Linked DNA regions of Homo sapiens. The protein of the gene in region 1 purifies or fractionates together with the protein of each later gene. This does not show direct contact. Each region holds a gene or a part of one and is shown in the gene's direction. Other genes may lie near its edges.

The links.
Region 2: the proteins of ODAD3 (region 1) and IFT74 purify together in Homo sapiens (affinity purification with mass spectrometry; 3 studies listed by BioGRID and IntAct, with this or other methods). This does not show direct contact.
Region 3: the proteins of ODAD3 (region 1) and IFT81 purify together in Homo sapiens (affinity purification with mass spectrometry; 3 studies listed by BioGRID and IntAct, with this or other methods). This does not show direct contact.
Region 4: the proteins of ODAD3 (region 1) and IFT46 purify together in Homo sapiens (affinity purification with mass spectrometry; 3 studies listed by BioGRID and IntAct, with this or other methods). This does not show direct contact.
Region 5: the proteins of ODAD3 (region 1) and NEURL4 purify together in Homo sapiens (affinity purification with mass spectrometry, with the first as the bait; one large-scale study listed by BioGRID). This does not show direct contact.

The regions. Positions count from the first base shown.
Region 1 is NC_000019.10:11,422,076-11,427,548, reverse strand, and holds part of ODAD3 (outer dynein arm-docking complex subunit 3), read left to right. Parts: intron 1-508; coding exon 509-676; intron 677-764; coding exon 765-866; intron 867-977; coding exon 978-1,103; intron 1,104-1,282; coding exon 1,283-1,405; intron 1,406-3,519; coding exon 3,520-3,672; intron 3,673-4,687; coding exon 4,688-4,848; intron 4,849-4,921; coding exon 4,922-5,078; intron 5,079-5,473. UniProt on the Homo sapiens protein: Component of the outer dynein arm-docking complex (ODA-DC) that mediates outer dynein arms (ODA) binding onto the doublet microtubule. Involved in mediating assembly of both ODAs and their axonemal docking complex onto ciliary microtubules.
Region 2 is NC_000009.12:26,961,726-26,968,190, forward strand, and holds part of IFT74 (intraflagellar transport protein 74 homolog), read left to right. Parts: intron 1-223; 5' UTR 224-242; coding exon 243-362; intron 363-6,465. UniProt on the Homo sapiens protein: Component of the intraflagellar transport (IFT) complex B: together with IFT81, forms a tubulin-binding module that specifically mediates transport of tubulin within the cilium. Binds beta-tubulin via its basic region. Required for ciliogenesis.
Region 3 is NC_000012.12:110,139,745-110,146,209, forward strand, and holds part of IFT81 (intraflagellar transport protein 81 homolog), read left to right. Parts: intron 1-3,637; coding exon 3,638-3,801; intron 3,802-6,465. UniProt on the Homo sapiens protein: Component of the intraflagellar transport (IFT) complex B: together with IFT74, forms a tubulin-binding module that specifically mediates transport of tubulin within the cilium. Binds tubulin via its CH (calponin-homology)-like region.
Region 4 is NC_000011.10:118,549,660-118,556,124, reverse strand, and holds part of IFT46 (intraflagellar transport protein 46 homolog), read left to right. Parts: intron 1-802; coding exon 803-877; intron 878-1,041; coding exon 1,042-1,135; intron 1,136-1,537; coding exon 1,538-1,666; intron 1,667-3,789; coding exon 3,790-3,911; intron 3,912-4,272; coding exon 4,273-4,339; intron 4,340-6,465. UniProt on the Homo sapiens protein: Forms part of a complex involved in intraflagellar transport (IFT), the bi-directional movement of particles required for the assembly, maintenance and functioning of primary cilia. May play a role in chondrocyte maturation and skeletogenesis.
Region 5 is NC_000017.11:7,318,508-7,324,972, reverse strand, and holds part of NEURL4 (neuralized-like protein 4), read left to right. Parts: coding exon 1-174; intron 175-492; coding exon 493-578; intron 579-702; coding exon 703-865; intron 866-960; coding exon 961-1,159; intron 1,160-1,249; coding exon 1,250-1,326; intron 1,327-1,409; coding exon 1,410-1,488; intron 1,489-1,849; coding exon 1,850-2,025; intron 2,026-2,106; coding exon 2,107-2,238; intron 2,239-2,962; coding exon 2,963-3,108; intron 3,109-3,185; coding exon 3,186-3,413; intron 3,414-3,513; coding exon 3,514-3,612; intron 3,613-3,699; coding exon 3,700-3,861; intron 3,862-4,049; coding exon 4,050-4,214; intron 4,215-5,764; coding exon 5,765-5,923; intron 5,924-6,298; coding exon 6,299-6,465. UniProt on the Homo sapiens protein: Promotes CCP110 ubiquitination and proteasome-dependent degradation. By counteracting accumulation of CP110, maintains normal centriolar homeostasis and preventing formation of ectopic microtubular organizing centers.

The DNA.
Region 1 (5,473 bases):
GATCGTGCCACTACACTTCAGCCTGGGCGACAGAGCGAGACTCCGTTTCAAAAAAAAAAAAAAAAGAAAAGAAAACAAAAACAAAAATTAGCCAGGCGTGGTGGTGGGCACCTGTAATCCCAGCTACTCGGGAGGTTGAGGCAGGAGAATGGCGTGAACCCAGGAGGAGGAGGTTGCAGTGAGCCGAGATTGCACCACAGCACTCCAGCCTGGGTGTCAGAGCAAGACTCCGTCTAAAAAAAAAAAAACGAAAGAAAGAAAAATTTAAAAATATTTTTTTAGAACCCTGAGCCGGTGTAAGATCGCCAAGGTGGTCGATATAGACAGAGAGAAGACTCCGGTGCTCTCTCTACAAAAACAACACAGAAGGGGTGGCCAGGGAGGTGGGTAGAAAACGGGAGAGGGGAGTCCTGGAAGCCACAGTGTGGGAGAAGGAAGGGAGGAAGGGCTAGGTGTGTGTCGGGGTAGGGTGTTGAGGCTCCTGCTTTCGCTCCCCTCCTTGCGGCAGGCCCTGGAGCACCTAGACCACCGGCTGAGGGAGAAGGTGAAGCAGCAGAACGCCCTGCGGCACCAGGTGGTGTTGCGGCAGAGGCGGCTGGAGGAGCTCCAGCTGCAGCACAGCCTGCGCCTTCTGGAGATGGCGGAGGCGCAAAACAGACACACGGAGGTGGCCAAGGTAGGGGCGGGTGAGGCCTGCAGGGCAGAGGGTCGTGTGGGAGGGATTGAGTGCGGAGGGCCCTCAGCCCAGCCCTGCTGCTCTCCAGACCATGCGGAACCTGGAGAACCGCCTGGAGAAGGCCCAGATGAAGGCGCAGGAGGCCGAGCACATTACCAGCGTGTACCTGCAGCTCAAGGCCTATCTAATGGTAGGGACTAGGAGGGCTCGGGTGAGATGACAAACAGGGAGGGCGGGCTTGGCTAGGGACAGCAGTCACAGACCTGCACCATCTCCGCTACCCCTCCCCACCACGCCCCAGGACGAGAGCCTCAACTTGGAGAACCGGCTGGACTCCATGGAGGCTGAGGTGGTGAGGACCAAACATGAGCTGGAGGCACTGCACGTGGTGAACCAAGAGGCCCTCAATGCCCGGGACATTGCCAAGGTGCCACCCCTCTTGCCCTCGGCCATCCTGCCCAGCTGCCGCGGTCTCCCAGCTTGAGAATCTGACCTCAGCTGTCCCTGAGCTTCCCCTACGCCCCCGCCCCCATCTATCTCCCAGCACCCTGCGGCGGGCAGTGGTAGGTGCCAGCTGGTCTCCCTGCTACCCTGCCCGCCCTCCAGAACCAGCTGCAGTACCTAGAGGAGACCTTGGTTCGAGAGCGCAAGAAGCGGGAACGCTACATAAGTGAGTGCAAGAAGCGCGCCGAGGAGAAGAAACTGGAGAACGAGCGCATGGAGCGCAAGGTGGGCGCACCCAGGGGTGCGCGCCTGTGACTCCAGCCCAGCCCAGCACAAACCAGCCATGCCCTGGCTCTCCCTCATCCTAGGCCTTCTCCCATTTTCTGTTTCTCCTAACCCCGCCCCCTCTCTGACTCCACCCCCACTTGGTGCGAAGACCCCTCCCACATCCCTGACCCCGCCTCTCCTCCCCTCCCCTCCTAAGCGACTGCACCATTTTGGCTCTGACATGGCCTCCAGCCTTCCCCTTACTCAGTGACCCCCCTACCCATCCTTTCCCACCTGACTAGACTGCCTGTCCTGAATCTGACCGTGCCTCTGAGCCAACCGTTGCCTAAGGCCCTGCCCCCTCACTCTTGGCCCCGCCCCTGCACCTGCCCTGAGGCTGCCTCCCATCCAGCCCTCACCAAAGCCCTGTCCTGCCTTTTTGTTTTTTGGGTTGTTGTTGTTGTAGTTGTTGTTTGATAGGTTTTTTTTGCATATATATATATATATATACGTATATACATATATATACATATATGCATATATGCATATATACACACACATATATACACATATACATACATATATACATACATACACACATATATACATATATACATACATACACACATATATACATATATACATATATACACACATATATACATATATACATATATACACACATATATACATATATACACACACATATATGTATATATACATATACACATATGTGTATATACACATATATGTATATATACATATACACATATGTACATACACACATATATACACATATGTACATATACACATATATACATATATACACATATGTACATATACACATATGTACACATACACATATATACACATATGTACATATACACACATATACACATATGTACATATACATATATACACATATGTACATATACACACATATATACACATATGTACACATACACATATGTATATATACACATATGTACATATACACATATGTATATATACATATGTACATATACACATATACACATATGTACATATACACATATATACATATATACACATATGTACATATACACATATACATATATACACATATACACATATATACACATATGTATATATGCACATATGTATATATACACATATATACATATACACATATGTACATATACACATATATACATATATACACATATGTACATATACACATATATACATATATACACATAGGTACATATACACATATATACATATATACACATAGGTATATATACACATATATACATATATACACATAGGTATATATACACATATATACATATATACACATAGGTATATATACACATATATACATATATACACATAGGTATATATACACATATATACATATATACACATAGGTATATATACACATATATACATATATACACATAGGTATATATACACATATATACATATATACACATAGGTATATATACACATATATACATATATACACATAGGTATATATACACATATATACATATATACACATAGGTATATATACACATATATATTTATACACATAGGTATATATACACATATATACATATATACACATAGGTATATATACACATATATACATATATACATATATATACATATATACATATATATATGGATTTTTTTTTGAGACACGGTCTCTGTCGCTCAGACTAATTATAGCTCACTGCAGTCTCGACCTCCTGGGCTCAAGTGATCCTCTCACCTCAGCCTCCCAAGTAGCTGGGACTTCAGGCGCCCCACCACGCCCTGCTAATTTTGGTGTTTTTTGTAGAGACGGGGTCTCGCCGTGTTGTCCAAGCTGGTCCCGAACCCCTGGGCTCAAACAATCCTCCCGCCTCAGCCTCCTAAAGTACTGGAATTAAAGGCGTGAGCCACAGCCACCGCCCCCGCGCCCGACCTTGTCCCACTTTCTTGACACCTGCCCGGGTGCCTTTATCTGGCCCCAAGCTTTTGCCCTCTCCCTTCCCTCCAGTTTGAGCCCTGTTCCTCGCGGGCCCCTATCTGGATCCCCCTCCCCGGCCTCCTTCCCAAGCGCTGTCCACCAGCTGACCCTGGCTCTGACCTCAACCCACGAGCAGACCCACCGCGAGCACCTGCTGCTACAGTCCGACGACACCATCCAGGACAGCCTGCATGCCAAGGAGGAGGAGCTGCGGCAGCGCTGGAGCATGTACCAGATGGAGGTGATCTTTGGCAAGGTCAAGGACGCCACTGGCACTGACGAGACGCACGTGAGTTCTGCCCGCAGCCCTCTCCGCCGCGCCCCCCCCCCACCCCAGACGGGCCCCAGGGGTGCCTAAGCCGGTGAAACCGACACACCCTGTCTCCCCTCTCTGCCAGGTCGGTTATTCAGCTCACAAACCTGCTCCTTTCTTGAAAAACATCCCTTCCCCCTCCAGCTACCGTTCAGTTTTTCTGCTGCCCTTCGCAGCAAAACCCCTAGGAGCTGTCTACACTCGCCGTCATTTCTACACTCGCCTTCCGTTCTCTCTTGCACCATGCTAACTCCTTTGCCATGCCAGCTCTAGGAGAACTGGGAGTTTCGTCTCTTGTTCTGTCTCCAGTGTCTGTAACATGGTCTGGGACCCAGTGGACCGCCCAGTACCATCCTCAGATCCTGGCAAGTGGGGTCCCTGCGCCGGGTCCCTCACTGTAAAGTCTTCCTTGCATTATTCTAAGACCGCTGTGTCCCCCTTGGGTCCTGGTTCCCGCCGGTGAACACTGGACCCCAACCCTGTTTCTCCCCTCTGGGTGTCCGCCAACCTGCTGCTCCTCCGATGGGGCCGACCCCTGATGACTTCCGGGACTCCCACCTATAGGAGTACACCTATGGGGTCATCTGGGGCACTGAGGCGCAGCCCCTTTCCAGATGTGGGCCTTGTGAGCGGATGGCTCCGAAGACGGGCGGTATTTCCTGCGGAATCGGGCGAGATTCACGGCCAGAAATTGATGGCACTTTGATTTTGGAAAGAAGCTATGCTCGCCTCTCCAGTTGCCCCCGAGTTTGGGCTGACTCAAATTCCTTATATAGGCCAGAAAGGGCCCCGCAAAAATGATATATCCAGGGCTGCTCACCCTTGAAGCAACCCTGCGTCCAACCCACAGTGTCCCCATACATTGCTGTGCAAAAGGCGCCAGCTCAGGCCACCTGTCCTGCGTGCGAGGGTTCGCAGGGTGGGGGAGAGGAGGTGGAGCGCCCCTACGCTCCCTAGGCCCTGGCTCTGACTGGGGCTGGGTGGCCCGCAGTCGTTGGTGCGGCGGTTCCTGGCCCAGGGCGACACCTTCGCGCAGTTGGAGACGCTCAAGAGCGAGAACGAGCAGACGTTGGTGAGGCTGAAGCAGGAGAAGCAACAACTGCAGCGGGAGCTGGAAGACCTCAAGTACTCGGGGGAGGCCACGCTGGTGAGGTGAGGCACCGGGGCTCTGGGGAGGGCGGCGGGGCGGGCTGAGCCCCCGGGGTGACCTCCCGGCTCCCTGCAGCCAGCAGAAACTGCAAGCCGAGGCGCAGGAGCGTCTCAAGAAGGAGGAGCGGCGGCACGCCGAGGCCAAGGACCAGCTGGAGCGCGCCTTGCGGGCGATGCAAGTGGCCAAGGACAGCCTGGAGCACCTGGCCAGCAAGCTGATCCACATCACTGTGGTAGGCCCCGCCCAGGGGAAGCCCCGACAGGCCCTCCTGGGACCGCAGAGGCGCAGCCACGAAGCGGGGTTCCTGCCACACCAGCTTGCCCGAGGGAACGTGGCCTGCCACATCCTCTGTCCCGGACGTCAGAGGCCCCGCCCACAGGGGAAGCCCCACCCCATTCCTCAGAGTCCCCGCCCCACCTCCCTGGGGAAGCTCTCACTCCCCAAGGAAGCCCAAGACGTCAGAGACCCTGTCCCGTCTCAAGCTCCGCCTCCAAGGGAAAGAAGTCCCACCCTGTCCCCGAAAAGCTCGGAGACCTATCTGCAGTTCTGGAGCAGCCCGAGACAGAAGACCTATCCTGCCCGCAGCAGAGGGCCATTTCTTCAGGAGGCCATCCCACAATGGCCTCC
Region 2 (6,465 bases), on another chromosome or scaffold:
TGGTAAGATAATAGAAAGATGAGGAAGGAATGTTGCAAGAAACAATCTCATAGTTGTAAATGGAGCACGATGTCATATTTGAACAAAATTAGCCTTGTAGTGGTACACAGAACGGCAGTTTGCAAGAACAATTGTTGTGAATTAAATGTAAGGGTATGATGGGTCATTATTGTCTTGCTAGAGAAGACATCAAAGGATTGAACTATTTATTGTTTCCAAACAGCGATTAAAGTGAAGAAACAATGGCCAGCAATCACAAATCTTCAGCAGCTCGCCCTGTTTCAAGAGGTGGAGTTGGGTTAACAGGAAGGCCTCCTTCTGGGATACGACCCCTATCAGGAAATATTCGAGTGGCAACTGCAGTAAGTTTGAAACAAATCTATTTACTTTGGGAGGCCAAGGTGGGAGGACCACTTGAGTCCAGGAGACTGGGGCTTCAGTGAACTCTGATCATGCCACTGCACCCCAGTTTTTGAGTTTTTGAGACTGTCTCAAAAATCTGTTGAATGCTTGTGCATATATTGTGGTAGAAGTTGGAAATCCCCTCTGTAATAAGAGATTCTACTTTGTTGTTTCTTTATTTCATAAGCATATTATTAAACATGTTTGTTTTGTTTTTTGGAAAGCATCTGGAAATGTAAATGTGGAAGAGTGTTTGAAAGACACTCTGGGAAGAAGATGCCTGCTCCTGCAGATACTCAATTTAAAGCTGCAATAATTTTAGTTGAATAGTGTATTGGGGCCAGAATAAAATGAAATGGAATAGACCTCAAATAGAATCAAGCATATAAGAATTTAGTTAATGATTAATGTGTGTTTCAAATTAGTTGGCAAAACATGGAGCATTCAATAGAACATTCCAATAATTGTTAAACCATTTGTTTAAAAGTATTTTTAATCCTCTCTTATACCTTTTATCAGAATTCTACATAGCTTAGAAACTTGGTATTTCAAAAATGAAACCATAAATGTAGTAGAGGAAAATGTTGGCAAGTATTCTGTATAAACTTGATATGGGCTAGGCTTTCTAAACATGACAGAAATAACAAGTACTGAAAAGGAAAATATTTTTATTATATATCTGAATTTACAAAAAATAAAACACCATAAAAAATTAGAAATGACAACTGGTAAAAACATTTATAATATATATACCATATATAGGATCAGAATCTTAAAATTAAAAGGTAAACTTTACTAATTTTTTTTTTTTTCTTTTTTTCTTTTTTTTATTTTTATTTTTTTGTTATACTTTAAGTTTTAGGGTACATGTGCACATTGTGCAGGTTAGTTACATATGTATACATGTGCCATGCTGGTGTGCTGCACCCACTAACTCGTCATCTAGCATTAGGTGTATCTCCCGATGCTATCCCTCCTCTCTCCCCGCACCCCACAACAGTCCCCAGAGTGTGATATTCCCCTTCCTGTGTCCATGTGATCTCATTGTTCAATTCCCACCTATGAGTGAGAATATGCGGTGTTTGGTTTTTTGTTCTTGCGGTAGTTTACTGAGAATGATGATTTCCAATTTCATCCATGTCCCTACAAAGGACATGAACTCATCATTTTTTATGATTGCATGGTATTCCATGGTGTATATGTGCCACATTTTCTTAATCCAGTCTATCATTGTTGGACATTTGGGTTGGTTCCAAGTCTTTGCTATTGTGAATAATGCCGCAATAAACATACGTGTGCATGTGTCTTTATAGCAGCATGATTTATAGTCCTTTGGGTATATACCCAGTAATGGGATGGCTGGGTCAAATGGTATTTCCAGTTCTAGATCCCTGAGGAATCGCCACACTGACTTCCACAATGGTTGAACTAGTTTACAGTCCCACCAACAGTGTAAAAGTGTTCCTATTTCTCCACATCCTCTCCAGCACCTGTTGTTTCCTGACTTTTTAATGATCGCCATTCTAACTGGTGTGAGATGGTGTCTCATTGTGGTTTTGACTTGCATTTCTCTGATGGCCAGTGATGATGAGCATTGTTTCATGTGTTTTTTGGCTGCATAAATGTCTTCTTTTGGGAAGTGTCGGTTGATGTCTTTCGCCCACTTTTTGATGGGGTTGTTTGTTTTTTTCTTGTAAATTTGTTGGAGTTCATTGTAGATAGATTCTGGATATTAGCCCTTTGTCAGATGAGTAGGTTGCGAAAATGTTCTCCCATTTTGTAGGTTGCGTGTTCACTCTGATGGTAGTTTCTTTTGCTGTGCAGAAGCTCTTTAGTTTAATGAGATCCCATTTGTCAATTTTGGCTTTTGTTGCCATTGCTTTTGGTGTTTTAGACATGAAGTCCTTGCCCATGCCTATGTCCTGAATGGTAATGCCTAGGTTTTCTTCTAGGGTTTTTATGGTTTTAGGTCTAACGTTTAAGTCTTTAATCCATCTTGAATTGATTTTTGTATAAGGTGTAAGGAAGGGATCCAGTTTCAGCTTTCTACATATGGCTAGCCAGTTTTCCCAGCACCATTTATTAAATAGGGAATCCTTTCCCCATTGCTTGTTTTTCTCAGGTTTGTCAAAGATCAGATAGTTGTAGATATACGGCGTTATTTCTGAGGGCTCTGTTCTGTTCCATTGATCTATATCTCTGTTTTGGTACCAGTACCATGCTGTTTTGGTTACTGTAGCCTTGTAGTATAGTTTGAAGTCAGGTAGTGTGATGCCTCCAGCTTTGTTCTTTTGGCTTAGTATTGACTTGGCGATGCGGGCTCTTTTTTGGTTCCATATGAACTTTAAAGTAGTTTTTTCCAATTCTGTGAAGAAAGTCATTGGTAGCTTGATGGGGATGGCATTGAATCTATAAATTACCTTGGGCAGTATGGCCATTTTCATGATATTGATTCTTCCTACCCGTGAGCATGGAATGTTCTTCCATTTGTTGTAAACTTTACTAATTTTTAAGTGCTCTTTCTGTATTAAGACCACAAGCCTTATGTCCAATCAAAATTTCATGACATTTCTTTTGATGCTAGGGGTAATATTATAAAACTATTCTAAAACTCATCTAGAACAATACCACAAAAATAAGAAAAAGTACAGTACTCTAATGTAAAATATGTTATAGACAATGAGTGAAACAATATTCTGATTGCCACGGCACCTGGAGGTAAACTCTAGTAAATGTTAAAGAGCTTAATATAAGAGAGTGTGTCATAAATAGTGAATAAGAGAAACACATCATATGAGGAAAAGTTAGATGAAGTTTATGAGTTGATATTCTAAGCAGAAGGATATCCTGTAAAGATAATTATTACATTTTCGTTATCATTATAATGTAAAAATTGGGAAACAACCTAGAAGACTTACAACAGGTGAATCTTAAATAATGATATGTATATCCCTATAAAGGCTGTTAGATAGTCATTACAAACTACTTTCAAGATATTTCAGAAAATAATATACTTTAACAAAAGTTTAAAAGTGATATCAATTTAACATAGAAAACATAAATTTATAAATACATAGAATTGAAATGGAAATAAATGAATAGACAAAAATGTCCATAAATTTATCTGATTTTCACACAGGTGATTTCAACTGAGAAGGTGCAGAGGGCCAATACTCAACCTCCTACAGTAGGCTAAGTGCAAACTACAGATAATGTTGGGTCCTATGGTTAACTCATAAGAAGAGCAGCATTTTTTGGAGGGAATAATTTTGTTAAAGTCAGATTTTCCTAAAGTTTTCAGATTTTTTTTCTAGAGTTTCAGGTAATAATATTAGGACATCGTCATCAACTTAGACTGAAATAATTTTTCTGAAGTCTTCATACATAGGATAGTAAGGGTATCTTTTTCTTTTATTCCAGTAAAAATTGATAATTAAATATTTATAAAAAGAATCTGACATTTATTGGCCACCTACTATTTGCCAGGCACGTTATCTGTTTATTTGTAAAATTTTAAAATTTGTATGTATTCATGGGGTAGGTCAGTTGTCTTACATGCATATATTATGTAATGATGAAGTGTGGGCTTTTAGTGTACCCATCACCTGAATAGTGAACACTGTACCCAATATGTAATTTAGCAACCCTCACCTTCCTCCCACTCATCTTTTGTAATCTTTAGTGTCTGTTATCTCACTCTGTATGTCCGTATGTACCCATTGTTTAGCTCCCACTTATAAGTGAGAACATGCGGTATTTGACTTTCTCTTTCTGAATTGTTTCACTTAGGATCATGGCCTCTGGTTCCAACCATATTGCTGCAAAAGACATGATTTCTTTATTATGGCAGAGTAGTGTTTCATAGTATGTGTATATATATATATGTGTATATGTGTGTGTGTATATATATGTATATACATGTATACCACATTTTCTTTACGTAGCCCTCCATCTCCATTGATGGACAGTCAGGTTTTTTTTTCATATATTCGCTATTGTGGCAAGTAGTGTGATAAACATAGGAATGCAGGTATCTTTTTGAAATAATGATTTCTTTCCTTTTGCAGTGGGATTGCTGGATCATATGATAGTTCTATTTTTAGTTTTTTGAGGAACTTCCATACTGTTCTCCATAGTAGTTATACTAACTTACATTCCCCCCAACACTGTACAAAGGTTCCCTTTTCTTTATATATTTGTCAGCATTTGCTATTGCCTTTCTTTTGGATAAAAGTCGTTTTAACTGGAGTGAGATGATATCTCACTGTAGTTTTGATTTGCATTTCTCTGATGATCAGTGATGTTGAGCACCTTTTCGTATACCTGTTTGACGTTTGTATATCTTCTTTTGAGAAGTTGTCTATTCAGACCTTTTGCCCGTTTTTTATTGTATTATTAGATTTTTTTGCTAGTGAGTTGTTGGAGCACCTTATATATTCTGTTTATTAATTTCTTGTCAGATGAATAGTTTTCATATATTTTCTCCTATTATGTTGGTTGTCCCTTCACTTTGTTGATTGTTTGCTGTGCAGGTGCTTTTTAACTTGATGTGATTCTATTTGTTCATTTTTGCTTTGGTTTCCTTTGCTTGTGGGATATTACTCAAGAAATCTTTGCTTAGACCAATGTTCTGGATAATTTCCCCTGTGTTTTCTTTTAGTAGTTTCATAGTTTGAGGTCTTAAGTCTTTAATCCATTTTGATTTGATTCTTGTATATGGTGAGAGATATGGGTCTAGTTTCATTCTTTTGTCTATGGATATCCAGTTCTCCCAGTACCATTTATTGAAGAAACTGGCATTTCCTCAGTGTATGTTCCTTGCATCTTTGTCAAAAATGTGTTCACTCTAGATATATGGATTTATTTCTGGGTTCTCTATTCTGTTTTTATGCCAGTATGCTTTTCTTTTTCTTTTCCTTTTTTTTTTAATTCAGGATGGGTTTGGCTATCCTAGATCTTTTATGGTTCTATATAAATTTTAGGATTTTTTTTTCTATTTTTGAGAAGAATGTCATTGATATTTTGACAAGGATTGCATTGAATTTGTAGATTAATTTGGATATTCTGGATATTTTGACAATGTTGATTCTTCCAATCCATGAACATGGAATATCTTTCTATTTTTTGTTGTTCTCTTCAGTTCATTGCATCAGTGTTTTATAGTTTTCATTGTAGAGATCTTTCACTTCTTGGGTTAATTCCTAGGTATTTTATTTTATTTGTAGCTATTGTAAATGGGATAACTTTCTTGATTTTTTTCATGTTGTTCCCTGTTAGCATATAGAAATGCTATTGATTTTTGTATCCTGCAATTTTTCTGAGTTTTACTGAATTTACTATTTATCAGTTCAGATAGTTTTTTTGGTGGAGTCTTTAGGTTTTTCCAAATATAAGATCATATCATCTGCAAACAGAGTTAATTTGACTTCTTCCTTTCCAGTTTGGATGCCCTTTATTTCTTTTTGTTGTCTGATTGCTCTAGCCAGGAATTCCAGTACTGTGTTGAATAACAGTGGTGAAAGTGGGCATCCTTGTTGTGTTCTAGATCTTAGAGGAAAGGCTTTCAGTTTTTCCTCATTCCATAGGATACTAGCTGTGGATCTGTCATATATAGCTTTTATTGTATTTAGATATGTTCCTTCTATACCTGGTTTTTTGAGGATTTTGATCATCAGGAGATGTTAAATGTCATCAAATGCTTTTACAATATCAACGGAAGGCTTTTGTCCTTCAGTCTGATGGTATGATTTATCACATTGATTGATTTGCACATGTTGAACTATCTTTAGTTACCTGGGGTAAATACCAGTGAGTCATGACAAATGATCTTTTTAATGTGTTGTTTAATTCAGTTTGCTGGTACTTTGTTGAGGATTTTTGCACCAATGTTCATCAGGGATATTGGCCTATAGTTTTCTGTTTTCTTCATATGTCTTGTCTTTTTTTTTTTTTTTTTAATCAGGATAATACTGGTCTTGTAGAATGAGTTTGAAAGCATTTTCTCCTCTTCTATTTCTCAGAATAGTTTTAGTAGGATCAGTATTAGTTCTTTTTTAAATGTTT
Region 3 (6,465 bases), on another chromosome or scaffold:
GCCTGGGCGACAGAGTGAGACTCCATCTCAAAATAAACACATACATACATACATACAATAAAATAAAATAAAATAAATAAAATAAAATAAAATAAAATAAAATAAATAAAATAAAATAAAATATAAAATAAAATAAAATAAAATAAAATAAAATAAAATAAAAAATAAAAAATTAGCTGGGCATGGTGGTACATGCCGATAGTCCTAGCTGTCCAGGAGCCTGAGGCAGGAAGATCACTTGAGCCCAAGAGTTTGAGGTTAAAGTGAGCTATGATTGTGCCACTGCACTCCAGCCTAGGTGACAGAGTAAGACTTTGTCTCAATAAATAAATAAGTAGCACATATTTAAAATGTATTAAATTTTTTTTTTTAATTTTACTTTAAGTTTTGGGTTACATGTGCTGAATATGCAGGTTTGCTACATAAGTATACATGTGCCATGGTGGTTTGCTGCACCTATCAACCTGTCATCTAGGTTTTAAGCTCCGCACACATTAAGTATTTGTCTGAATGCTCTTCCCCTTTCCTCCCATGCCCTAAAGTGTATCCTTGATTACTTTTGACATACGCATACACTGGTGAAACCATCAGCTTTTAATCAAGATCACAAACCTATCCATCACCCCAGACATTTCCACTGACCCTTTTTAATGTCTCACTCTTGCCCCCTTCTGCCTTTCTGTCCCTCCCCAGGCAACCATGGATTTGCTTTCTGTCACTATAAATCAGTTTATATTTGCTAGAATTAGAAACTTTTTTTTAAATAGAGAAAATATTATTTGAGAATTTTAAATCTTTAAAAACATTTTAGTCTTTGATTCCATGCATCTCTAATTACATGGGGTACACTTAAGAACCTGAGGATGGAAAAGCTGGTCATCTAACAGACAAAGAAGTCAGGATGTAGATTTAATCGAAAACCACATAGGAATGACTGACTAATTACAGTGTGATTTATTTATTTTTATTGTTTATTTACTTATTTATTTATTTTTTGAGATGGAGTTTCACTCCTGTTGCCCAGGCTGGAGTGCAATGGCGTGATCTTGGCTCACTGCAACCTCCGCCTCCCAGGTTCAAGCCATTCTCCTGCCTCAGCCTCCCAAGTAGCTGGGATTACAGGCATATGCCACCACGCCCGGCTAATTTTGTATATTTTTTTAGTAGAGACGGGGTTTCTCCATGTTGGTCAAGCTGGTCTCAAACTCCTGACCTCAGGTGATCCGCCCGCCTCAGCCTCCCAAAGTGCTGGGATTACAGGCATGAGCCACCACGCCTGGCCTATTTTTTATTTTCTGAGACGGAGTTTTGCTCTTGTTGCCCAGGCTAGAGTGCAATGGCATGATCTTGGCTCACCGCAACCTCTGCCTCCCGGGTTCAAACGAATCTCCTACCTCAAGCATCTCTACAGCCTCCAGAGTAGCTGGGATTACAGGCATGGGTCACCATGCCCGGCTAATTTTTTGTATATTTAGTAGAGATGGGGTTTCTCCATGTTGGTCAGGCTGGTCTCAAACTCCCAACCTCAGGTGATTCGCCTGCCTTGGCCTCTCAAAGTGCTGGGATTACAGGTGTGAGACACCACGCCCAGCCTACAGTGTGATTTATTAAACACTTTCTCTTCTCTTCCTTTCTCTAATCCTGAAAAAAGAAGGAATAGTGAAGTAATGAATGGAAAACTTAGAATTTGCAGTTAATAAAATTTTACATGTTAATATATGGTTAGCACGATGGAACTAAAAATAGTTTTAAGGCTTTGGGCCAGATGTATTATGCTTTGGGCCAGATGTATTATGCAATCTATTACACAGATTACTTAAACCAGAAAGCCCATGTGTTAAAAATTTGAGCCAGGCCAGACGAAGTGGCTCACGCATGTAATCCCAGCACTTTGGGAGGCCCAGGCAGGCGGATCACTTGAGGTCAGGAGTTGCAGACCAGCCTGGCCTTAACATGGTGAAACCCTGTCTCTACTAAAAATACAAAAAATTAGCCGAGCTGGTAGTGTGCGACTAATTCCAGCTACTCAGGAGGCTGAGGCAGGAGAATCGCTTGAACCCAGGAGGCAGACAGAGGATGCAGTGAACCCAGAATGCACCACTGCACTCCAGCCTGAGTGACAGAGCAAGATTTCATCTAAAACAAAAAACAAAAAACATTCAAGTCAGAATTTGTAAATGTGTAAATGGAAAGATATGAAATAAACTTTGTAAATCTCTCTAGGCTGGGAATTTAAAACAAGATGGTTATTCACTGAAAATCTGTGTGTATAGTTGTCCAACTGCAAAAATAAGAAAACTAAAATCTTAAAAATATAAATTGCCACTTAACTGTAAACTAATAATACTTTACAAAATAAAAAATACCAAAACATGGAAAACTTAAAACATTTATGTGTAGGTAGATACTTTGTTTCTTTTTTCTTTTGTTTTTTTGAGACAGAGTCTCCCTCTATCCCCCAGGCTGGAGTGCAGTGATGGTGACACGATCTTGGCTCAGTGCATCCTCTTCCTCCCAGGTTCAAGCGATCCTTGTTCCTCAGCCTCCCAAGTAGCTGAGACTACAGGCATGTGCCACCATGCCCGGCTAATTTTTGTATTGTTAGTAGAGACAGGGTTTTGCCATGTTGCCCAGGCTGCTCTCGAACTCTAGACCTAGGTGATCCACCCACCTCGGCCTCCCAAAGTGCTGGAATTACAGGCGTGAGCCACTGCACCTGGCCTGTTACTCTTTTTTAGATTTTAACTTGTGGTGCTTTTAGTAATGTCTTCATTGGCTTGAAGCTGACAAATGATAATGAATTATCATTTATGAACTGTTATAATAGAAATATAAATTGTTCTGGGTACAGTGTAATCCCAGAACTTTGAGAGGCTGGGATCACACCTGTAATCCCAGCACTTTGAGAGGCTGAGGCAGGTGACTGCTCAAGCCCAGGAGTTAGAGACCAGCCTGGGCAACATGGCAAAACCTCGTCTCTACAAAAAAAAATACAAAAATTACCTAGGCGTGGTGATGTACACCTGTGATGCCAGCTACTTCCAGCTACTCAGGAGGCTAAGGTGGGAGGATCACTTGAGCTGTGAAGGTTTAGGTTGCAGTGAGCTGAGATAGTGCCACTACACTCTAGCCTGGGTGACAGAGCAAGACCCTATCTCAAAAAAATAAAAAATACATATGTATATATATAGCATTAAAAGTATTCCAAAAGAAAAAAAATACATGATCATCTGTATAAAAGAGCACCTGGGTTAGATTTTATTTGTGTTATCATTTGGTTCATGGGTCTCTTAAATGCTTAGAAGGTAAAATATGACCCAACAATGTATCTGGCTCAGCACATGTTATTTTTGCGTATTGCGGGATATAAAAGAATTAGGTTATAATTTGAAAGGGTCATAATAGCACTTTTTCTATAATTATTTAAATATTCTTCCATGTAAATTATGTTTCTTCATTTTCATTGTAATTAACAATAAAATATTTCAATGGCCAATCTTTTATTGTACTATGCTATATATTATACAGTTTGTTTTCAACAAATATGCCGTATCCAGGTCTTATATTTAAAATAGTATACAGAATATCACTGTACCTACTCTTTTGGGCTGAATATTTATTTATTTTATTTTTAAAGGTTTAATGAAGAGGCTAGAGGAGGAGATAAAATTTAATTTATATATGGTAACTGAAAAATTTCCTAAAGAATTAGAAAATAAGAAAAAGGAATTACATTTTTTACAAAAAGTAGTTTCAGAGCCAGCTATGGGCCATTCTGATCTTCTTGAACTTGAATCTAAAGTAAGTGAGAATCATCTTTTTATAGCTCTCAATTTTATCTGATCCCCAGTCCTATAAAATTATGTGAACTGCTTTCTGTAGTATCCCACTATTGACTCTTAAATTAACCTGTGCTAAGAGTTGACAACTCTTATGAGGAATTGTCCTTTATGAGGAATTATAGAATGTTATGCTATTACTTAATCCACATGATGTTATGAAAACATAATCAATTGATTAGCAAATGAAGTAACTTAAATATGTAAATTAATGCATATGAATTGACCAGTGGGTTTATGTCTTCATAATGTAAGCATTTAGATGGGAAATTTGGAAATATTTTAATTGTCATTAATTTTTATTTCCAAGCAAAATATTATAGCAATTTTATATTTAAAGCTAATATTTTTATTAACCTTGTATACCTGCCTTGGAATTACTAAATATTGTAATGCTTATTGAAAGCTGGTATCAGGTTATACCTTTTTTTTTTTTTTTTTTTTTGAGACAGTACTTGCTCTGTTGCCCAGGCTAGAGTACAGTGGCACAATCTTCTCAGCTCACTGCAACCTCTGCCTCCTGGGTTCAAGTGATTATCCAGCCTCAGCCTCCCAACTAGCTGGGATTACAGGCACGAACCACCATGCCCGGCTAATTTTTTGTTGTTGTTGTTGTTTTTGTTGTTGTTGTTTTGTTTTTTGTTTTTTTTTGAGACAGAGTCTCGTTCTGTTGCCCAGGCTGGAGTGCAGTAGCGTGATCTCGGCTCACTACAACCTCCGCTTCCCGAGTTCAAGCGATTCTCCTGCCTCAGCCTCCTGAGTAGCTGGGATTACAGGCACGCGCCACCACGCCTGGCTAATTTTTGTATTTGTAGTAGAGACAGGGTTTCACCGTGTTGGTCATGCTGGTCTCAAACTCCTGACCTTGTGATCCACCCATCTCAGCCTCCCAAAGTGCTGGGATTACAGGCATGAGCCACCGCACCAGGACTTGTTTTGTTTTTTGAGACGGAGTCTTGCTCTGTTGCCTAGACTGGAGTGCAGTGGTGAGATCTCAGCTCCCTGCAACCTCTGCCTCCCGGGTTCAAGCCATTCTCCTGCCTCAGCCTCCCAAGTAGCTGGGACTACAGATATGTGCCACCATGCCTGGCCAATTTTTTTATTTTTAGTAGAGACGGGGTTTTGCCATTTGTCCAGGCTGGTCTTGAACTCCTGACCTCAGGTGATCTGCCCGCCTCAGCCTCCCAAAGTGCTGGGATTACAGGTGTGAGCCACTGTGCTTGGCCTGATTATACCATTTTTGTTCCCTAGAATTAAAATGCTAGGTCAGGTGCAGTGCCTTTTTTTTTTTTTTTTTTTTTTTGACGGAACTTGCTCTGTTGCCCAGGCTGGAGTGCAGTGGCACAATCTCAGCTCACTGCAACCTCCACCTTCTGGGTTCAAGCGATTCTTCTACCTCAGCCTCTCGACTAGCTGGGATTACAGGCGCACACCACTATGCCTAATTTTTTTTTTTTTTTTTTTTTTTACACGGAGTCTCACACTGTCACCTAGGCTGGAGTTCAGTGACATGATCACAGCTCACTGCAGCCTCCATCTCCCAGGCTCAAGTGATCCTCCACCTGAGCTTCCCAAGTAGCTGGGACTACAAGGTGCATGCCACCAGTTCTGGCCAATTTTTGAATTTTTTGTACAGACAGGGTCTGGCCATGTTGCCCAGCATGGTCTTGACCTCCCAGATTCAAGAGATCTGCCTGCCTCCGTCCACCTCAGTCTCCCAAAGTGCAGGGATTACAGGTGTGAGCCATTGCACTCAGCCTAATTGAAATGTTTTGACTTGCTAATTCTTTAGTGTGCTTACTATGTGGTTAATAGCCACTACAATTAAATACATAATTCTGACTGTTTTGGTTTTTTTTGTTTTTTTTTTTTTGAGATGGAGTGTAGCTCTGTTGCCCAGGCTGGAGTACAGTGGCGTGATCCCGGCTCACTGCAACCTCTGCCTCCTGGATTCAAGTGAATTCTGCCTCAGCCTCCCCAGTAGCTGGAATTACAGGCACCTGCCACCATGCCCAGCTAATTTTTGTATTTTTAGTAGAGATGGGGTTTCACTGTGTTGGCCAGGCTAGTCTCTAACTCCTGACCTTGTGATCCACCCACCTCAGCCTCCCAAAGTGCTGGGATTACAGGTGTGAGCCACCGCGCCCAGGCCTGACTGTTTTATTCTTTTAATTTACTTAGAAAAATTAAATGTCCAAGTCAGATCTGGCTAAAATTTTGTTTTGTTTTGTTTTGTTTTGTTTTTGAGATGGAGTCTCACTCTGTCACCCAGGCTGGAGTCCAGTGGTGCGATCTCGGCTCACTGCAACCTCCACCTCCTGGGTTCAAGTGATTCTCCTGTCTCAGCCCCTGGAGTAGCCAGGACTACAGGTGCATGCCACCAAGCCCAGCTAATTTTTTGTATTTTTAGTAGAGACGGGGTTTCACCATGTTGGCCAGGCTGGTCTCGACCTCCTGACCTCAGATGATGCACCCGCCTCAGCCTCCCAAAGTGCTTCAATTACAGATGTGAGCCACCGTGCCCGGCCTAATCTGGCTAAAATTTAATGTCACAGAATTAGGGTTAGGGTTAGAGAGAACTCTAATCTTTCAAAGGATGGATACACTGAAAACCATGGTTTTTGTT
Region 4 (6,465 bases), on another chromosome or scaffold:
CTTGAGCTCAGGAGTTTGAGACTGCAATGAGCTATGATCGGGTCACTGCACTCCAACCTGGTCAACAGAGTGAGACCCTGTCTCAAAAATAAATTAATTAAATTTAAAAAATAATAATAACACTGCTAAAAACACTTCTATAATTTTTTTTTTCTGGTGCAAACTATTTTCATGTCAGATATTTAAATCTCTTTTTTTTTTTGAGACAGAGTCTTGCTTTGTCACCCAGGCTGGAGTGCAGTGGTGCGATCTTGGCTCACTGCAACCTCTGCCTTCCAGGTTCAAGTGATTCTTCTGCCTCAGCCTCCTGAGTAGCTGCGACTACAGGTGTGCACCACCACACCTGGCTAATTTTTGTATTTTCAGTAGAGATAGGGTTTCAACCATGTTGGCCAGGCTGGTCTTGAACTCCTGACCTCAGGTGATCCGCCTGCCTCGGCCTCCAAAAGTGCTGGGATTACAGGTGTGAGCCACCACGCCCAGCCCTAAAATCTCTTGTTCTACCTTTTCTTGTCATCCTTTCATTAAAAAAAAGGAAAACCATTTATGCTACATTTTAACATCAAAAAAATATTATGTTTTGGATTTTCTGCACCTCTGTCCTTCAGAGTCAGAGATAATTGAGAGTTAAGTACAATCAACCTTAAAGTTGCCTTGCAAGCCACCAGGAAAGGCAGATATTGGAGAGGCAGAAGCTAGCTTCAGGATCATGTCCCTATAGTCAGTAACACACCAGCACCTAGGACCCTGCCACCTCTGCTCTTCTCTGGCCACCTCGAACAAACTGTTTTCCTTTTCCCAGGGCCTATGACCCTGCAGACTATGAGCATTTGCCAGTTTCTGCTGAAATTAAGGAACTCTTCCAGTACATCAGTAGGTGAGTACTAGGACCTCCCACCATACCCCACTATCCCTACCTTGCCCCAAACCTTTCCTATCTCTAGTCTGAAACAGGGCCATTCCCCTTAGATTTTTTTTTAGCCTGAATAGTAAAGTAACTTTTTCTGACTGTCTCCACCTTCCCTTGGCAATATCTCCTAGGTACACACCTCAGTTGATTGACCTGGACCACAAACTGAAGCCTTTCATTCCTGATTTTATCCCAGCTGTCGGGGATATTGATGCATTCTTAAAGGTATAGTCAGTACATCCTGAAAATGACTCCTTAAGTGTTTCTTCTGATGCCCCTGTTACTCTTAACAGTTTCCCTAATTTCTTTGACTAGCATTGGCTAGTCATGTTCATTTCATTGGAGTTCTTAACCTTGCTCTCAACTCCAAATTACACTCATTGCTCTTAAGTAATACTTAATATCTCATTACACATTAACAGTTTGTCATGTATTTGCTTCCTAATTATCTATGACAACAGGTTCATATTTAAGCTGCTATGGATAATATTTTTTTTCTGGATAGTATTGCGTACAGCATGATAAGCATGCTTTTAATACTAGTAATAATGATGAACCAGAAGTGTTCTTCCTCTTAACTTATTGGAAACATTTTCCTTTCTGCTTTCTTACCTTTTTCTTAACCAGGTCCCACGTCCTGATGGAAAGCCTGACAACCTTGGCCTATTGGTATTGGATGAACCTTCTACAAAGCAGTCAGACCCTACGGTGCTCTCACTCTGGTTAACAGAGAATTCTAAGCAGCACAACATCACAGTAAGATACTAGCTTAGTATAGGCCCCAGCTGGAGAGGGCCAAGAGTGGAGGAGGCCTTGCTGGCACTCATACAGTTGACTTACTGCCTGTCAAAAGAGATGGGCCTGGGTGCGGTGGCTCACGCCTGTAATCCCAGCACTTTGGGAGGCCGAGGCGGGTGGATCATGAGGTCAGGAGATCGAGACCATCCTGGCTTAACATGGTGAAACCCCGTCTCTACTAAAAATACAAAAAAAAAAATTAGCAGGGTGTAGTGGCGGGCGCCTGTAGTCCCAGCTACTCAGGAGGCTGAGACAGGAGAATGGTGTGAACCCGGGAGGCGGAGCTTGCAGTGAGTCGAGATCATGCCACTGCACTCCAGCCTGGGCAACAGAGCTAGACTCCATCTCAAAAAAAAAAAAAAAAGAGATGGTTATTGCTTTGGGCCAGCTCTATTTTTAAATGACAGCTTTATTTATATATAACTTAAATACCAGCAAGTTTAGCCTTTTAAATTGTACAACTTATTAGTTTTAATATAATCACAGTTTTGTAGCCATCACCACTACCTAATTTAGAATATTTCATCACCTCAAAAAGAAACTTCATACCCATTACTATTCACTCCTCATTCTCCCACTTCCTCCTAGACCCTGGTAATTATTTCATTCCTTTGTTATGGCTGAATAATATCCACTGTATGGATTTACCAGATTTGCTTTATTCATTCTCTAGTTCTGTCCACTCTTATTAATAATGGTGCTTTGAATATTTGTATACAAGTTTTTGTGTAGGTATATATTGTTATTCTGTTGGGTATATACATAGGAGTAGAATTGCTGGGCCATATGGAAACTCTATGTTTAGCCATTTGAAGAACTACCAAACTGTTTTCCAAAGTGGCTGTACCATTTTACATTCCCACCAGCAATGAATGAGAGTTCCAGTTTCTCTACATCCTCATCAATACTTTTTGTTTGTATTTTTCATTCTAACCATCCTAGTAGGTGTGAAATGGTATTTCTTTTTTTTTTTTTTTGAGACAGTTTTACTCTTGTTGCCCAGGCTGGAGTGCAATGGCGTGATCTTGGCTCACCACAACCTCCACCTCCCGGGTTCAAGCGATTTTCCTGCCTCAGCCTCCCGAGTAGCTGGGATTACAGGCATGCACCACCACGCCCAGCTGATTTTGTATTTTTAGTAGAGTCAGGGTTTCTCCATGTTGGTCAGGCTGGTCTCGAACTCCTGACCTCAGGTGATCCACCCACCTCGGCCTCCCAAAGTGCTGGGATTATAGGTGTGAGCCACCAAGCCCAGCCTAAATGGTATTTCATTATGGTCAGTCCTGCCATTTTGACCTGCTGCCTTTCCATGGCTTCAGCAAATTATTTTTTTTTGAGACAGGGTCTCGCTCTGTTACCCAGGCTGGAGTGCAGTGGTGTGATTGGGGCTCACTGTAGCCTCGATCTGCAAGCAATCCTGCTACCTCAGCCTCCCAAGTAGCCGGGACAGACCACAGGTGTGTGCCATCATGCCTGGCTAGGTTTTTTTTTTTTTTAATTTTTATTTTATAGAGGTAGGGTCTCCCTATGTTGTCTAGGCTGACCTCAAGTGATCCTCCTGCCTCAGCCTCCCAAAGTGCTAGGACTGCAGGTGTGAGCCACTGCACTTGGCTTTTTTTTTTTTTAAAGACAGGATCTCGCTCTTGCCTAGGCTGGAGTGCAGTGGCACAGTCGTAGCTCACTGCAACCTCAAACGCCTGGGCTCAAGTGATCCTCTTGCCTCAGCCTCTCAAGTAGCTGAGACCACAGGCACACACCACCATGCCTGGCTAATTTTTAAATTTTTAGTACAGACAAGGTCTCACTATGTTGCCCAGGCTGGTCTTGAACTCCTAGCCTCAACTGATCCTCCCACCTCAGACTGCCAAAGTGCTAGGATTACAAGTGTGACCGCCATGCCTGGCCTGGCTGCAGCAGATTTTATCAGGGTTTTCTATCCCCTTCATTTGGCTACTGTTTCACGTGGCAGCAGCTGTCATCAGCAAGCTCGAATATGAAACAGCAGCAGATATAATGAGACACTGTAAAAACAAGAGAGCTACTTCAGTGCCATCAGCTAGGCTTTCTCCTTACTTTCCTAGCAACATATGAAAGTAAAAAGCCTAGAAGATGCAGAAAAGAATCCCAAAGCCATTGACACGTGGATTGAGAGCATCTCTGAATTACACCGTTCTAAGCCCCCTGCGACTGTGCACTACACCAGGTAAGAAATACCACATTCTTTGCAACAGTAACACATAGTAACCTTCACTACCTGTGAACTGTTGCTCCTGAGAAGAGGCCCAGAGGCTGGGAACATATTTGATCAACCTGAGGTCCTGTGGATCCTGGCAACTACTGGCTGAGATTGTAGACATAAAGATTGTAATTTCTCTAGTATTACTTAGCTACCTCCTCCAAACCCCAGGCCCTGGGTAACTTTGGTATGCCCAGTCTAGGTTCTCCTGAAGCCTTCCTGATGTGCCAGATTGAAGACCTCTCCTTCATCCTAGAATATGCTGATCCAGAGGTTGCTGATGTTATCAGTTCACGTTTCTTGTTCATATTTACCTTTATACTTTTAGGCCCATGCCCGACATTGACACGCTGATGCAGGAATGGTCCCCGGAGTTTGAAGAGCTTTTGGGCAAGGTGAGTGGAAGGTAGCAGGAGGTAGGGTAAGAAAGTACAGTATTCGCTCCAGGGCCCAGTGTTTTTTCTCTTCCTCCATTATTATTATTGGTAACTTTTTTTTTTTTTTTTTTTTGAGACAGGGTCTTGCTCTTCCCAGGCTGCAGTGCAGTGGCATGATCATGGCTCACTGCAGCCTCTACCTCCCGGGCTCAAGTGACCCTCCCACCTCAGCCTTACCAGTAGCTGGGACCACAGGCATGCACCACCACACTCAGCCATTTTTTTAATTTTTGGTAGAGACGAGGTCTTGCTTTGTTGCCCAGGCTGTTCTCAAACTCCTGGGCTCAAGCAGTCCTCCTTCCTCAGCCTCCCAAAGTGCTGGGATTACAGGCATGAGCCACTCCACCCAGCGATCATTAATTTTTTTTGTTGAGATGGAGTCTCTCTCTGTCGCCCAGGCTGGAGTGCAGTGGCATGATCTCAGCTCACGGCAACCTCCACCTCCCAATTCAAGTGATTCTCCTGCCTCAGCCTCTCGAGTAGCTGGGATTACAGGTGCCTGCCACCATGCCACCATGCTAATTTTTGTATTTTAGTAGAGAAAGGGTTTCACCATGTTGGCCAGGCTGGTCTCGAATTCCTGACCTCAAGTGATCCGTCTGCCTTGGCCTCCCAAAGTGCTAGGATTTCATTAACTTTTTAATGGTAACACAGGAAACCCATGTATATGTGGTAATTTGATATATAAGAAAGATAGTTTTTTTTTTTTTTTTTTGAGGCAGTCTCACTCTGTTGCCCAAGCTGGAGTGCAGTGGCATGATCTTGGCTCACTGCAACCTCCGTACCCCCCGCAGGTTCAAGCAATTCTCCTGCCTCAGCCTCCCAAGTAGCTGGGATTACAGGCATCTGCCACTGTGCCTGGCTAATTTTTGTATTTTTAGTAGAGACGGGGTTTCACCATCTTGGCCAGGCTGGTCTTGAACTCCTGACCTCGTGATCCACCCGCCTCTGCCTCCCAAAGTGCTGGGATTATAGGCGTGAGCCACCGCGCCTGGCCAAGAAAGATAGTTTTTTAAATGATTGGTGATAGAATTAGGGTATAATGAGACAATTATTTGAAAAAAATTAAAGTAGGTTTCTGCCTCAACTGTATACATATGTGAATTTCAGATGAATTAAAGAGTTAATGTGGGCCGGGCACAGTGGCTCATGCCTGTAGTCCTATAATTTTGGGAGGCTGAGGCGTGAAGATTGCTTGAGCTCAGGACCAGCGTGGGCAGCATAAGGAAACTCTGTTTCCAAAAATAAACAAATAAATAAAAGAAGGGAAAAAAAGAGTTATTGTAAAAATAAAGCCATGTAAGTAATATAATAAAATATAGGAGATACAGAAGGAGCATGACTGAAAAAATAAATGAAATAAAATATAGGAGAAATTTAATTATCTCTTTTTAAAAAATTCAAGTGTCTTATAACTTAGGGAAATTTAATTCTATTAGGATAGTTAGGTGTTTCTCAGTGTAATAAGAAACTTAAAAGTCATATTGAGGCCGGGTGCAGTGGCTTAGGCCAGGCGCGGTGGCTCACACCTGTAATCCCAGCACTTTGGGAGGCCGAGGCAGGTAGATCACCTGAGGTCAAGAGTTTGAGACCAGCCTGGCCAACATGGCGAAACCCCATCTCTACTAAAAAAATACAAAAATTAGCTGGGTGTGGTGGTGTGTGCCTGTAATCCCAGCTACTTGGGAGGCTGAGGCAGGAGAATCACTTGAACCCAGGGGCAGAGGAGGGCACGGAGGTTGCAGTGAGCAAAGATTGAGCAACTACACTCCAGCCTGGGTAATAGAGCGAGACTCCATCTCAAAAAAAAAAAAAAAAGTCATAATGGAGTGGGAGGCTGAGATGGGAGGATTGCTTGAGCCCAGGAGTTTGAGACCAGCCTGGGCAACATAGACCCATCTCTGTTAAAACCAAAAGAAAAGGCCAGCCACAGTGGCTCACGCCTGTAATCCCAGCACTTTGGGAGGCCGAGGCGGGCTGATCATGAGGTCAAGAGATCGAGACCATCCTAGCCAACATGGTGAAACCCCATCTCTACTAGAAATACAATAATTAGCCAGGCGTGGTGGTGCACACCTGTAGTC
Region 5 (6,465 bases), on another chromosome or scaffold:
ATGACTTCAATCACGGCGTGGTGCTGAGCAGCAGAGCCCTGCGGGATGGAGAGGTGTTCCAGGTGCGCATCGACAAGATGGTGGACAAATGGGCTGGCTCCATTGAAATTGGTGTCACCACCCACAACCCTGCCTACCTCCAGTTGCCCTCCACCATGACCAACTTGCGCTCTGGTGAGCTCCCAGGAAGGGCAGGGACAGGATAGGGTTTTGGGGGGAAGCTATCCCCAAAGCCCTGGCACTTGTTCTGCAGCTCCTTTTTCACTTGTCACTCTTGTGACCACTCATTCAGTGGCTAGAGAGTGTCCCGTGGGCAGGGCTGTGGCTGTCTTGGAAGCTGCAGAGTTTTCTTGTCCTGCTCAGGGAAGAAATCTAGTCATCAAAGAAAAGGCAAGGTGGACTGTGGGCTCGGGAGTCCTGTGGGCGCTGCTGTGGCAAGGAGAGGAGCCCTGCATTTCCCCTCATGTCCCCTCCTGCTCCTTGTCCTCCCAGGGACCTGGATGATGACTGGGAATGGGGTGATGCACAATGGGACGACCATCCTGGATGAATACGGGCACAATCTGGACCGCCTCAAGGTGGGAAAGTGGGTGCGCCGCCTGGCGGCCGCAGCGGGCATCACAAACACCGCGGGGCTGATGCAGGACCAGCCCCGGCAGGAACTCTGCCTGACTCCTCACTCCAGCACCCCCTTCTTCCAAGGCAGGGGACACGGTGGGCGTGGTACGGCGGGAGGACGGGACTCTCCACTTCTTTGTCAATGGGATGACTCAGGGCCCTGCTGCCTGGAACGTGCCCCCGGGCGTCTATGCTGTCGTCGATCTCTATGGCCAGGCGGCCCAGGCCACCATTGTGGACGACGTGGGTGAGGGCCGGGCTGGGCTGGGGCTGGGGGTTAGGGTGGCCTTGGGAGGTCTGAGAGACACCTAGAGACCTGATGGGTGATGTCCACTTTTACAGAGGTGGCTCCAGTTCCTGAACCACTCCCTGAGGGGAACAACCAGGTGTCTCCAAGCTCTCCGTCCTCAGGGGCCGGGGGCTCTGACCTGCGCTTCCATCAGCTGCACGGCAGTAACGCAGTCATCACTAACGGGGGCCGCACCGCCCTCCGCCACAACTGTCGCAGCGAGTTTAATGACGCCATCGTCATCTCCAACCGGTCAGTCTCTCAACTTTCATGTCCCCACCTTCCTCCTGCCCAGCCTCAGCCATGCAAGTAGAGCCTCTCTGATCGCCAGTCTCCTGGCAGGGCCCTGCGGGATGGAGAGCTGTTTGAAATTGTCATTCAGAAGATGGTGGACCGCTGGTCAGGCTCCATTGAGGCTGGTGAGGGCCGTCTGTGTGTGTTGGGGGCTGTTGGATGTCTGTGCCTTGGGGATCGGCCTTGACTTACCCCTGCCTCCTCCCAGGAGTGACTGCTATTCGGCCTGAAGACCTGGAATTCCCCAACACCATGACAGACATTGACTATGACACATGGATGCTGAGGTTGGGCTTCCTGCTTTGGGGACCAGCTTGGGGCTGAGTGGAGCTGGCTGGGATCAGGGAAGCAAGGTTTGGGCCTATGGTGGCTGTGGGTAGTGACAGACCTAGGGGATCTACCTGTCCCCTCCCCTTGAATTCTGGGAAGTCCTGCCCAGGCCCACAGGGGCTCAGTCCTCCTTCATCTTAGGCAGTTCTTGCTTTTTCCTAAGGGGATCCCAGGGACAGAGGAGATAGGATTGGGCCTTACACCCAGATCAAGACACCAGCCCAAGACATTGGAGGGTTCTGACAGACAGGGAGTGGGCAGGGGCCAATGTGAAGTTGAAGTTGGCAGGCTGACTCACCCCTTCTGCCATCCCCCCAGTGGTACAGCCATCATGCAAGACGGTAACACGATGCGCAACAATTATGGGTGTGACCTGGATGCGCTGGGCACAGGTGCACGCATTGGCATGATGCGAACTGCCAAGGGCGACCTGCACTACTTCATCAACGGCCAGGACCAAGGCGCTGCCTGCTCGGGCCTGCCTCCGGGTAAAGGTGACTATGTGGCTTTCAGCCTGCCACCCTCAGCCCAGACCACCTGGCTGTCAGGCTTCTGACCTTCCCTCTCCTCCCCAGAGGTGTATGCGGTAGTCGATCTCTATGGCCAGTGTGTCCAAGTGTCCATCACCAATGCCACCGGCCCCATGGACAACAGCCTGGCGACCAGCAACACTGCCACCGAGAAGTCCTTCCCACTGCACTCCCCAGGTGCGGCAGCAGGGCGGGGGCTGGACGGGCTCTGCTTGCCTGCTGTGCACCTGAGGAGTAGGGTTTCCAGGTTAGAGAGGTTCTGCAAAGACGGTTGGCTGGGGTAGCTGCCGGCTCCAGGGAAGGGACAGCCCACGGTGGCAAGCAGCCAGTGAGGGGGAGGTTACACCTGGTACTTAGAGCCTGGACACTTCCCTGCCACCAAGGGGCCAGGACACCATAAGCTGAGCATGCCAGGTTTGGAAATGGGCCTTGCTGTGGTGAAAAGAGGTATCAGGGCCGGGCGCAGTAGCTCACGCCTGTAATCCCAGCACTTTGGGAGTTCAAGGCAGGTGGATCTCTCGAGCACAAGAGTTTGAGACCAGCCTGGGAAACATGGCGAAACCCCGTCTGTACCAAAAATACAAAATGTAGGCAGGTGTGGTGGCATGCACCTGTGGTCCCAGCTACTTGAGAGGCTGAGGTGGGAGGATAGCTGGATCCCAGGAAGTCGAGGCTGCAGTGAGCCACGACTGTGCCCCTGCACTCCAGCCTGAGTGACAGAGCGAGACTCTGCCTCAACAAAATACAATAAAGAGGTGTCAGGAGGCCCTGAGGTGTAATGGCAGATGGCAGATGGGGCGTTGGCATCCCCATTTCGTTTCATCTGAAAGCTTTGCTCTGTGTTCTGCCTGAAGCTCGCTGCCCCAATCCTACCCCTTCTACTGGTGCCATCTCTTCACAGTGGCTGGCGTGGCTCACCGATTCCACAGTACTTGCGGCAAGAACGTCACTCTAGAGGAGGATGGCACGAGGGCAGTGCGTGCCGCTGGCTATGCTCATGGCCTTGTCTTCAGTACCAAGGAGCTGAGGGCTGAGGAAGTCTTTGAGGTAGGCCGTAGTGATGTGACAGAGGGGCTGCGAGGCCCATCACGACAGGGCCAGCTTATGTTTTCTCTGTCTCGTAGGTGAAAGTGGAAGAGCTAGATGAGAAGTGGGCAGGTTCCCTGCGGCTGGGGCTGACCACACTAGCACCGGGGGAGATGGGACCCGGGGCAGGCGGTGGTGGCCCAGGGCTGCCTCCTTCCCTGCCAGAGCTCCGGACGAAGACCACTTGGATGGTATCCAGCTGTGAAGTGAGGCGTGATGGGCAGCTCCAGAGGATGAACTATGGCCGGAACCTAGAGAGGCTGGGGGTGAAGTGGCTGGCTCCAGGGACAGGGGAGGGGTTGGGAGTGGAGGTGGCAGGGAGAGGTGGGCTGAACATCGTCCGTCCTTGTCCTACCTCGGTCCTAGGTGGGGAGCCGTGTGGGTGTTCGTCGGGGGGCAGATGACACGATGCACATCCTGGTGGATGGAGAGGATATGGGGCCTGCAGCCACTGGCATTGCCAAGGTAGACCTGAACGCTTCCTTGGGTTCTGGGAGGATGGTTGAGGTCTTCTGCTGATCTCTGATTTTCTGGGTCTTGTGTGCCTCCCAGAACGTGTGGGCTGTGTTGGATCTCTACGGGCCAGTCCGCGGTGTGTCAATTGTCAGTTCCACGAGACTGGAGGAGTCAGAAGGCACCCAGCCTCCTTCCCCCAGTTCAGACACCGGCAGTGAGGGCGAGGAGGATGACGAGGGCGAGGAGCATGGCCTGGGAGTAAGAGGCTGCAGCATGGTCTGCTGTGCACATGGATGGGCAGTTGCTGGGCCGTTGGATGCCAGGCCTTTTCTGGGTTCTCTGATCGTTGGGTGGAGGCTCACACTCAGGATCTGTGCAAACTCCAGTGGGGTGGGTCAGTCCTGGCATTGGCAACCCATGCAGCTCAGTCCCTTCCTCCACACCAGGGCCAGAATGAAGTGGGTATTATACCCACCACCCTCGAGTTCCTGGAGAACCATGGGAAGAATATCCTTTTGTCTAATGGGAACCGTACGGCCACACGGGTGGCCAGCTACAATCAGGGCATCGTTGTCATCAACCAACCTCTGGTGCCCCAGCTGCTGGTGCAGGTGGGTTCTCCCTCCCTATCCCCAGCTTCTCTCGCTCCACAGTGACCCATGGCCAACCCCCCTGAAAAAAGGCCTTTTTGTGTGGAGAAAAAGAAAGCAAGCCACTTGGATGAGCTTCCTAGGCTTTTATTCATAGCCTGTAATGAGGGTCATCAGTCAGTTACCACGAAGTCCCTACCTGGTGATTGGTGAGGGAAGCAGTAGGGACAGGCTGGAGGAGTCCAAGAGAAATGCCTGATCCTATATGTGGGAGCAGAGAGGGCTTTCCAGAAGAAGGTGCCTTTTTGCTACAAACTGAAAGATATGTGAAAGTTAGCCAGCTGAGCCCGGGTGCGGTGGCTCATACCTGTAATCCCAGAACTTTTGGAGGCCAAGGCAGGCGGATCGCTTGAGCTCACGAGTTCGCGACCAGCCTAGGCAATATAGTGAAACTCTGTCTCTACAAAAAAAATACAAAAATTCTCCAGGCATGGTGGCACGAGCCTGTAATCCCAGCTACTCGGGAGGCTGAGGTGGGAGGATCACTTGAACCTGGGAGGCAGAGGTTACAGTAAGCCGAGATCACGCCACCGCACTCTAGCCTGGGAGATAGAGCAAGACCTTGTATCTTAAAAAAAAAAAGAAAAAAAGGCCAGGCTCAGTGGCTCATGCCTGTAATCGCAACACTTTGGAAGGCCGAGGCGGGCAGATCACGAGATCAGGAGATCAAGACCATCCTGGCTAACACGGTGAAACCCCGTCTCTACTAAAAAATACAAAAAATTAGCCGGGCGTGGTGGCGGGCGCCTGTAGTCCCAGCTACTCGGGAGGCTGAGGCAGGAGAATGGCTTGAACCCAGGAGGCGGAGCTTGCAGTGAGCCGAGATCGCACCGCTGCACTCCAGCCTGGGCAACAGAGCGAGACTCCGTCTCAATAAAAAAAAAGAAAGGAAAAGAAAACTAGCTAGGTGAAGGAAGTCCTAGGAATAAGAATCCTTAGAGATCCTTACAGAGGCAACAGCAAGGTCAAGGCTCAAACAGCATGTTTTTTTTTTGTTTTTTTGTTTTTTTGTTTTTTTTGAGACGGAGTTTAGCTCTTGTCGCCCAGGCTAGAGTGCAATGGTATGATCTCGGCTCACCGCAACCTCCACCTCCCGGGTTCAAGCGATTCTTCTGCCTCAGCCTCCCAAGTAGCTGGGACTACAGGCATATGACACTACGCCCGGCTAATTTTGTATTTTTAGTAGAGACGGAGTTTCACCATGTTGGTCAGGCTGGTCTCAAACTCCTGACCTCAGGTGATCCACCCACCTCAGCCTCCCAAAGTGCTGGGATTACAGTGTGGGTCACCATGCCCGGCTGGCGGTTCTTTTTTTTAAAAAAAAAAAAAAAAAAAAAAAAAAAAAGAGGGAAAGAAACAACTAAATTAGCGTTTTCTGGTCCTTCCAAGCATAAGAAAAGGCAGCATCCCAGGCCACATTCTGGGAGGTGCAGTATTCCCTCTCTGGCTGGGGTGCGGAGCCTGGTTCTTCCCAGGAGGCTGTGATTATGGAGTAGTTCTTTCTTCCCCAGGTGCGGATAGATTTCCTAAACCGACAGTGGACATCTTCCCTTGTCCTGGGAGTCATCACCTGCGCGCCTGAGAGGCTCAACTTCCCTGCTTCTGCCTGTGCCCTCAAACGGGCAGCCTGGCTGCTGCGGGGCCGTGGGGTCTTCCACAACGGTCTCAAGGTGAGTAGGAGCCAGAGAGAAGGAACAGGACCAGGCCTGTGAGTAGAGAAGGGCTGGCCAGAAGGGAGAAGTGGGCCCCTAGCCTTGGAGGTAGGACCACAGGTGTAAAAGGGGAACAGTAATGGGCAGGCAAGGGCGAGTAGCATTGCCTGGTCAGTCTTAGGCCTGCTGCTTCCTGCGGTGTCCCTGCCATTGAGAATGTGCCAGTTTTGGGGAAGGGGAGGGGCTCTAGGTAACTGCAGTGGGAGGAGAACCTCGGCAGTGGGCAAGCATGGAGGCAAAGCCAAGGCACTGGCAAAAGGAAGCAGAGCAAAGGGCGGGACAGCTGCCGCGGTGGAGTCTGACCTCTGGAAGACAGCCGGTCTCTCCTCCCAGATCTGCGAGAAGTTTGGGCCCAATCTGGACACGTGCCCTGAAGGCACCATCCTGGGACTGCGGCTGGACAGCTCTGGGGGGCTGCATCTTCATGTTAATGGGGTGGACCAGGGGGTAGCTGTGCCAGATGTGCCCCAGCCCTGCCATGCGCTTGTGGACCTCTATGG